Linked DNA regions of Homo sapiens. The protein of the gene in region 1 purifies or fractionates together with the protein of each later gene. This does not show direct contact. Each region holds a gene or a part of one and is shown in the gene's direction. Other genes may lie near its edges.

Region 1 (3,947 bases):
CCCTGTAAGGGCTAGAACCCAGGTCTGATTATCTCCTGAACTGTGCTCCAGATACAATTCAGCCAAAGCCACTCCACAAATAACAATAATGATAGATCCACTCTCACGACATATTTCTGTCACATCTAGCAACCAGCTGGCAAGATTAAACCAGGAATTTAGAAGGGGAGAGAGAGAACGCAGAGGCAGATATGCAGGGGTAATACATGGAACACAAGCAAGTTGTCAAAGAGCCAGTCCCAGTGATGTCATACATCACTGAGCAACCTTGGGCAAGATGCCTCAACCTCTCTGGCCTCAGTCTTTTCATCTTTACAGGTTAGAAAATGTCAGGGATTGCAAGGATTGGATGGAATGATACGCCAAATACACCCTCCGAAGGGCTCAAGTGATTGCAACGATTGGATGGAATGGTACACTGACTACACCCTCCAAAGGACTCAAGGGTTCTTTTGGTGAATACACCAAAAGGTCTATTTCTTCATCCTTGTTAAAACTTTGGAAATGTTAACTCACAACTCTCATAGTCTACCAGCACTTATCTGCAACATTTTGAGAAAACTAAATATAATTTTCTTTTTTTTTTTTTTTTTTTTTTTTGGAGATGGAGTCTCACTCTGTCACCCAGGCTGGAGTGCAGTGGCTCAATCTCGGCTCACTGCAACCTCCACCTCCTGGGTTCAAGCAATTCTCCTGCCTCAGCCTCCCGAGTAGCTGGGATTACAGGCACCCACCACCACGCCCAGCTAATTTTTGTATTTTTAGTAAAGACAGGGTTTCATCATGTTGGCCAGGCTGATCTCGAACTCCCGACCTCAGGTGATCCACCCACCTCAACCTCCTAAAGTGCTGGGATTACAGGCATGAGCCACCATGCCCGGCAATTTTCTTATGTTATGCCCCATTTCCTTTTCACAAAAATGAACTCCCCCTCCCCTCAAAGTGCTCAATTTTTACAGGGAACCAGTACAGGTTTTTGAAATTTTCCTTTCCTTCATGAAGAATCTGACATTTCTACTATACCAATAACAATAGGAGCAAAGAGTTTACCCTGTATTTGCATAATTAGTTAGAAAGATGAGAATTTCCGTGGCCTCCGAAAAAGGAGCTCTGCATCTTTAAAACTCTGCGAGGCTCCCTGCCTTCCGCGCAGACCGAGCAGACTGCCGCAGCGACTCATCCTATCGATAAGGTTCAGTTAGCCAAGGTGGAGGATGGGAAAAGAATGGAACTGTCCCAGCTACTCAATGAGATCAGGGCAAACTATGAAAAGATCCTCACCAGAAATCAGATAGAGACGGTGCTCTCAACAAGGATCCAGGTAATGATTTCATACAGACAGGCACCTTCCAGAATAAGGAGACAGTCCATGTCTACCCAATTCCTGTCCCGGCCTCTCTGAGGTACAGTATTTCCTTTTCGATGCAGCATCTATTGGGGAAGGAATTTAGCTTCTACTGCAGTGTGACTGGGACTACAGGGGGAAATACTGTGATTATATTGTTAAATTGCCATTAAGTAAGTGTTGATTGATGCATTTGATTTTTATATAAATTGTGAGGTTCCTATCATTAACATGGGGTCAACATACCATAAAATGGTGCACTCTAACCTCTTACAATCTTCAGGAAGGAACCATTCCAAATACCCTTCAAAGATATTATTGGAGTTATTTACAGAGATAATTTAAATAACATCTTTAAAATGAAAAATCTTTAAGTAAGATTTATTAGCATGTACACTTTCTAGAGATATTTCTAAAAGGTTTCTATCATCTTTTTAACGAGTTCCATTTTATACCAGATTGTTATAAATAGAAATCATCTGAGTGTGTGAACATGGCATTCAGAAACAATGATATAAATTATGACCATTGAAATTCCCCAAATTGGTAACGATTCTCCACTAAGATTTTTGCTTCTGTACTATAAGATGAGAAACATTTCTTTCCATTACAAAGCTTGTAATATTTAAGTATTTAAAAAAGAGAAAGAGAGCCTACTTAGATAAGGACTAAATCCTAATTTCATAGACTTAGTTTTAAAGTAACAATCACCTTCAGCAAGTAATTAAGGTCTCAAGTCTTTAAACAAATTTACAAACAAATATTTTAGAAACAAAGATTAAGAAATTTAGGGGATTTTTTAGTTTACCTATCATATATGGGTTCAAGTTATCTTCCAAACCCTGAAATACAGCAAAAAGTTTACTTAAGAATATCACCCAAAATTTTAAAAAAAAAAATTGGTAGAAAAATGTCAGGCCTTTATTCCATTAGCCACTCATTTTTAGTTCCATTGTAAATTTCACCTCTAGATAACATTTTCAGCCTTCATAAAGAATGATCAACATCTTAGATTAAGCAAAGTCACTGGTACAGGTAAGCATTGGGATAGTTCATTCACCTTTACAAACAGAAGAAAAAAATCAATAGATGACAACTTCTAAAAATCATAAACAAAACACTTAACTTTGCAGTAGTAGAAATATGAGTTTAGTTTACAAGTCACAGGGCCAAAATGAGTAAATTCAAATGAAAAAGCAAGACTACGGTGAGTTTTGTTTAAAGTGTCTTTTAATTTGAAACTACTTTAGAGGATTTTCTTCCAAATAACTCAGAAAGTCAGCTGAAATAAATTCAAGACAGCCTGATTAGTTATTTTTTTAAATTTCTAAATAAGCTATTTTAGTTACAGATTGTTGTATAACACCCCAAAACTCATCTGGGACCTCAATCGTCTTGGGGCATGACTGGGCTCACTTATGTGTCTGGCACTTTGGCAGGGCATTGCCGAAAGGCTGGCTCTGCTGGGACTTTCTCTCTCACTTCACGTAGCCTCAGGGTCTCTCTCCATCTGGCCTTTCTACAGGATCTCTCCAGCAGGGTATCCAGACTTCTTGCATATTGGCCCAAGGCTCCCAAAAGCATAGAAGTGGAAGCTATCAGGCTTCCTAAGACTTAGGTCTAGAAGTGGCACAGCATTCCTTCTGCCTCATTCTACTGGTTAAAGCAAGACCCAGGTCAGCCCAGAGTCAATGTAGAAGGGGATCACCCTAGGACTCATCTTGGGAGATAGACTTCTTTAGGGGCCATCTTGGGACTGTAGTTACCGAACAAGCTTAGCTGCCAGTTCCATATTTGAAAGCCACAAGACCAGCAGATACCAGCATTTTTCTGTTTTCTTCTCTCCAAAATTCCTTACTTTACCTTCTGTAGTTGCTCTGGTAGGTGTTGCTTGCTGCCTGACTTTGCCAAGTTAACACTAAGAACAGATTTTCAACAAACCAAAAGAAATGTACGAATTTTGTTCTCCAATACCTTGCCCTAAACTTTATTCATAAACTTTCATTTACTTCAACGTTTTTTTAAAAAAATCTAATGTATGATAAAATTAAATTTTTAAATGTTAAAATATATTTTTATAAGAAAATTAAAAGTTATAAATTTTGCTTCAAAATGCTACAATCAATTCTATACATTGTTCTCACTGTTCCTGGGGCCAAATGTTAAAAATTCTGTCAACAGATACTTTCTTTTCATTTCAACATCAACATAAAAACATTTAAAGCTAAATATAAAATATTCTACTTTTTTAATAGGAGAATATTTAGAAAACAATCCTTAGAGAAGTCATTTTTATTATTTATTCATTTTATTACCCAGATACCCAAAATTAATATGCCTTTTAAAAAGATCATCTTGAAAAAGGTCAATCAACAGATTTTCTTAATATGGAAGTCTATTTGTGAGCCTTATTGCCTATAACAACTTAATTCTCTAAATTACTAGTAATGTATTTCCTAGCAGTATTTACGCCCTATCCCTATACCTGGTCCCAGAATTGATCAGTTTTGGGGGTACGGCTGTTTATCTGCTTCTGCAAAGCAGCCTACAAGAAAATGTGGGGGGAAATAGCTAATTTTCAATCCTTCCTCCTAGTGATCCA
Region 2 (3,500 bases), on another chromosome or scaffold:
AAAAGAGGTTTCATGTTAAGTGAACTAAAAATTCTGTTAGCGGCCGAGTGTGGTGGCTCACACCTGTAATCCCAGCACTTTGGGAGGCTGAGGCGGGCAGATCACGAGGTCAGGAATTCACACCAGCCTGGTCAACATGGTGAAACCCCGTCTCTACTAAACATACAAAAAATTAGCCAGGCATGGTGGCATGCACCCGTAGTCCCAGCTACTCAGGAGGCTGAGGCAGGAGAATCGCTTGAACCCGGGAGGTGGAGGTTGCAGTGAGCCAAGACTGAGCCCCTGCACTCCAGCCTGAGCGACAGAGCGAGACTCTGTCTCAAAAAAAAAAAAAAAATCTGTTCGCCTCGTAACCATACTAGTCATCATCCTCAGTAATTGCGATGTTACCCCAGGGACCCAGATGGTCCTCTGGGTTCCCTGGGCTCTTGAATATATCAACAACATTCACATTTAGGAGGACTGCAACTGCTTCATTTTGTGCTGACTGCTGTAACCCTGTAGGTATATTTCTATAATAAGATATGACCATCAGTTGTCGTAATATCTACTGAAGTGTCTCAAATATGTATATATTTTAGATGTATTAAATAACACTATCTTTGGCTTAGCAGGTTTTTCAGATTTGTACATTATTGGGCAAATGTTATTGTATATCCTAATTATTATTGTTAATTATTAATTAATTATTGTTAATGTCTCTGAAAATGAATGGTAGCTTAAGCTATTTTGCCAGAATATTCAGACCTGAGAGTTTTGGTGTACTTTTTCCTGTGAAATATTATGGTTTGTACTTAGTTGAAGGAACAGAGTGTAAGCAATTTACTTACCTTTGGGGGCAGGATGTTGAGAAAGAACTGGAGATGCAGATCAGCATGAGGCAGGAGATGGAATTGGCTATGAAGATGCTGGAGAAGGATGTCTGTGAGAAGCAGGATGCCCTGGTATCTCTTCGGCAGCAGCTGGATGACCTCAGAGCTCTCAAGCATGAACTTGCCTTTAAGCTGCAGGTAGGGGAAATATGAGGAATAGACTCACTGGCTCTCTAAAATCCTGGGGCTTCCCTCCTCCCATCTGATCCTCCAGAATCACACTTTAATTACAAGAGGAAAGAATCACATCTCATTTTGATGCTAGCTGCCAGTAAACTACTTTCAGAATCAGACAACCATGGGATCCTGTATTGCTGTTCTAGAAAACCATGGCCACTTTTCACATTATAGTAGAGGATGAGGGTCTTTTTTATCCTATAGGGTAATTTCTACTCTGCAGTCTACCGTGCCAGCTAAGTTATATATTCTATTAGCTTTTACACTGGAATGTGATACATTGATGAACTATTACTGTGATCACACTGCATATAACAATACTAACTTTAGATAAATTGCTTTTTTTTCCATTTCAGGATTAACTGATATTGAAATATATGAACATTTCTGTTTTCCCACTTACCATTAGATTCAAAAGGCATGTGTGGTTGTATTTTAGGATTTATGTTATACAGGTTGTTTATCGTTATTTTCCATAACAGAGTTCAGACTTAGGAGTAAAACAGAAAAGTGAACTAAACAGTCGCTTGGAAGAGAAGACTAATCAGATGGCTGCTACCATTAAACAACTTGAACAAAGGTAAAAGTCCTGTTTCTTTAATGAAACACTTTGGATTGTCAGTGCTGAAGTGAAAAGAATGTGCTGTACATTCGGCAAATAGAAAATACATGAAATTCTTCCAAATTAGCATCAGACATTCTGGTAGAAAAAAGCCAGTTGAATGTTATGTGTGTTTTCTAAGGTATGACTGAAATGTTTTTAGGAAATGTCAATCACTTGACTAGCCTTTAAAAAAAAAAAAGAAAGGTCAGCCTTTTATGACTGTTTTGAACATCAGAACTCTTAATCCATGTCAGAGTCATGTGTTAGAGGAAGGATACTTAAAAGCATGGAAGGACTCTTAAATGTATGTATGTAATTCTGTGATTTTATTGTTCATCACTGAAGTCTTTGAATACTTGGATGCTAGGGGATATAGAGGCACTGAGAGATAGGTGTCCTCCAAGGATCTATTCTGGATCTTTCTCTCCCTTCTTTAACCCTTTTCTCTTATCTCCCTTTTCTTTCTCCTGGGTAGTTCTGTAGCTTCCACTGTCACCTCCAGTGTGTTTTCCCAGCTCTTACCTTCATCTGGAGACCAGTCTTGAGTTTTCATCCTTTGGGCAGCTATCTTCCACCAGTATCTACAATTCAGTCTGCCCAAAGCACATCTTCTTCCTATGCTACTCTCTTTCTGTGCTTATGTGAAACCACCATTTTCTCTCTGGCAACTTAGCAGCCAAGAGAAATGGCTGAGTCTTCAAGGATGAATGTGACGTGGTACCCAAGGTCATTTGATGTTTCTACCCTTAACACCTGTTTGTCACCCTTCTTGCACTTGAGCAAAACTAAACTGCTGGTCCCTGTACTTCCCATTTTTCCCATTTATTTCTTTCCCAATAGTTCCACCAATTAGAAATGTCCTAATTCTTCCCACTCCCTTATTCGTCAGATACATTTTTAAGTTTAGGCTCAAATGCCACCTCCCCAGAGTTTCCTCTGATACCTCTTTGCAGCTAGAAATGATCTGTCTTTCTGGGAACTCCCATAGCTTCATACTCATATCTATCTATACTGCTTATGGCACTTCTCACTGTCTACTGTACCTTTTAACTCTTTATATATGTCTCCTCCGATGCGAGTGTAAGCTCCCTGAGATTAGTTAACGAATCTTTTAAGTTCCCGTATTAGATCTGTCGCAGTGCCTTGAATATACAAGCATTCATTCAGTAGATATATGAATGAATGGATTAATGGGTGATTTCTTATATTCAGATGATTCTTAACCAGTAAGGGTCCTGAACAGCAGTGCATATTAATGTTAACTCAAAACTTAATGGCAAATTTATAAATAAACCTGAAACCTCTTACATAGCCAAATACAAATGTATCAGTCTACCTAGGAAAGATGGTTAGGTACTTGCTCATAAACAGTTATATGTTTATGATTTAACAAAATGATTTTACTGTTCATAAATTGTGCTTTTGAAATGAAATGTATCAAATTTCTTTTCAATGATGTTTTGACTTGGAATTTAAAGCAAACAGAAAGAGAATAATGACTTATCTCTTTGAGTATTAAGCTGACTTATTCTCTTGCTATTTTTGTGTTTCCTGTTTATCCATTTTCTCATTCTCCTTTCACTTCATTGTCATTTTTATTTTATTTAGTGAAAAGGATTTGGTGAAACAGGCAAAGACCTTAAATAGTGCAGCAAATAAACTGATCCCAAAACATCATTAGGCATTTTTAAGTTGGTCACGTCGCAAGTCCGATATCACAACTTAATTGTAAAAGGAAGAAATCTGAAAGTTACTACATTTAAGCTCTGATTCTATATAAAATGTCACCAAAAAGTTGACTTTGAATTTGTTGGACTTTTAAAAAACCAGTTGGAAATATAGGTTGG

Evidence for each region.
Region 2: the proteins of KRT222 (region 1) and RUFY3 purify together in Homo sapiens (affinity purification with mass spectrometry; one large-scale study listed by BioGRID and IntAct). This does not show direct contact.

Annotation. Positions count from the first base shown.
Region 1 is NC_000017.11:40,662,378-40,666,324, reverse strand, and holds the start of KRT222 (keratin-like protein KRT222), read left to right. Parts: upstream 1-1,147; 5' UTR 1,148-1,225; coding exon 1,226-1,321; intron 1,322-3,947.
Region 2 is NC_000004.12:70,787,964-70,791,463, forward strand, and holds part of RUFY3 (protein RUFY3), read left to right. Parts: intron 1-842; coding exon 843-1,010; intron 1,011-1,531; coding exon 1,532-1,629; coding exon of another isoform or gene 1,630-1,633; exon of another isoform or gene 1,634-1,934; intron 1,935-3,261; coding exon of another isoform or gene 3,262-3,334; exon of another isoform or gene 3,335-3,500. UniProt on the Homo sapiens protein: ARL8 effector that promotes the coupling of endolysosomes to dynein-dynactin for retrograde transport along microtubules. Acts by binding both GTP-bound ARL8 and dynein-dynactin.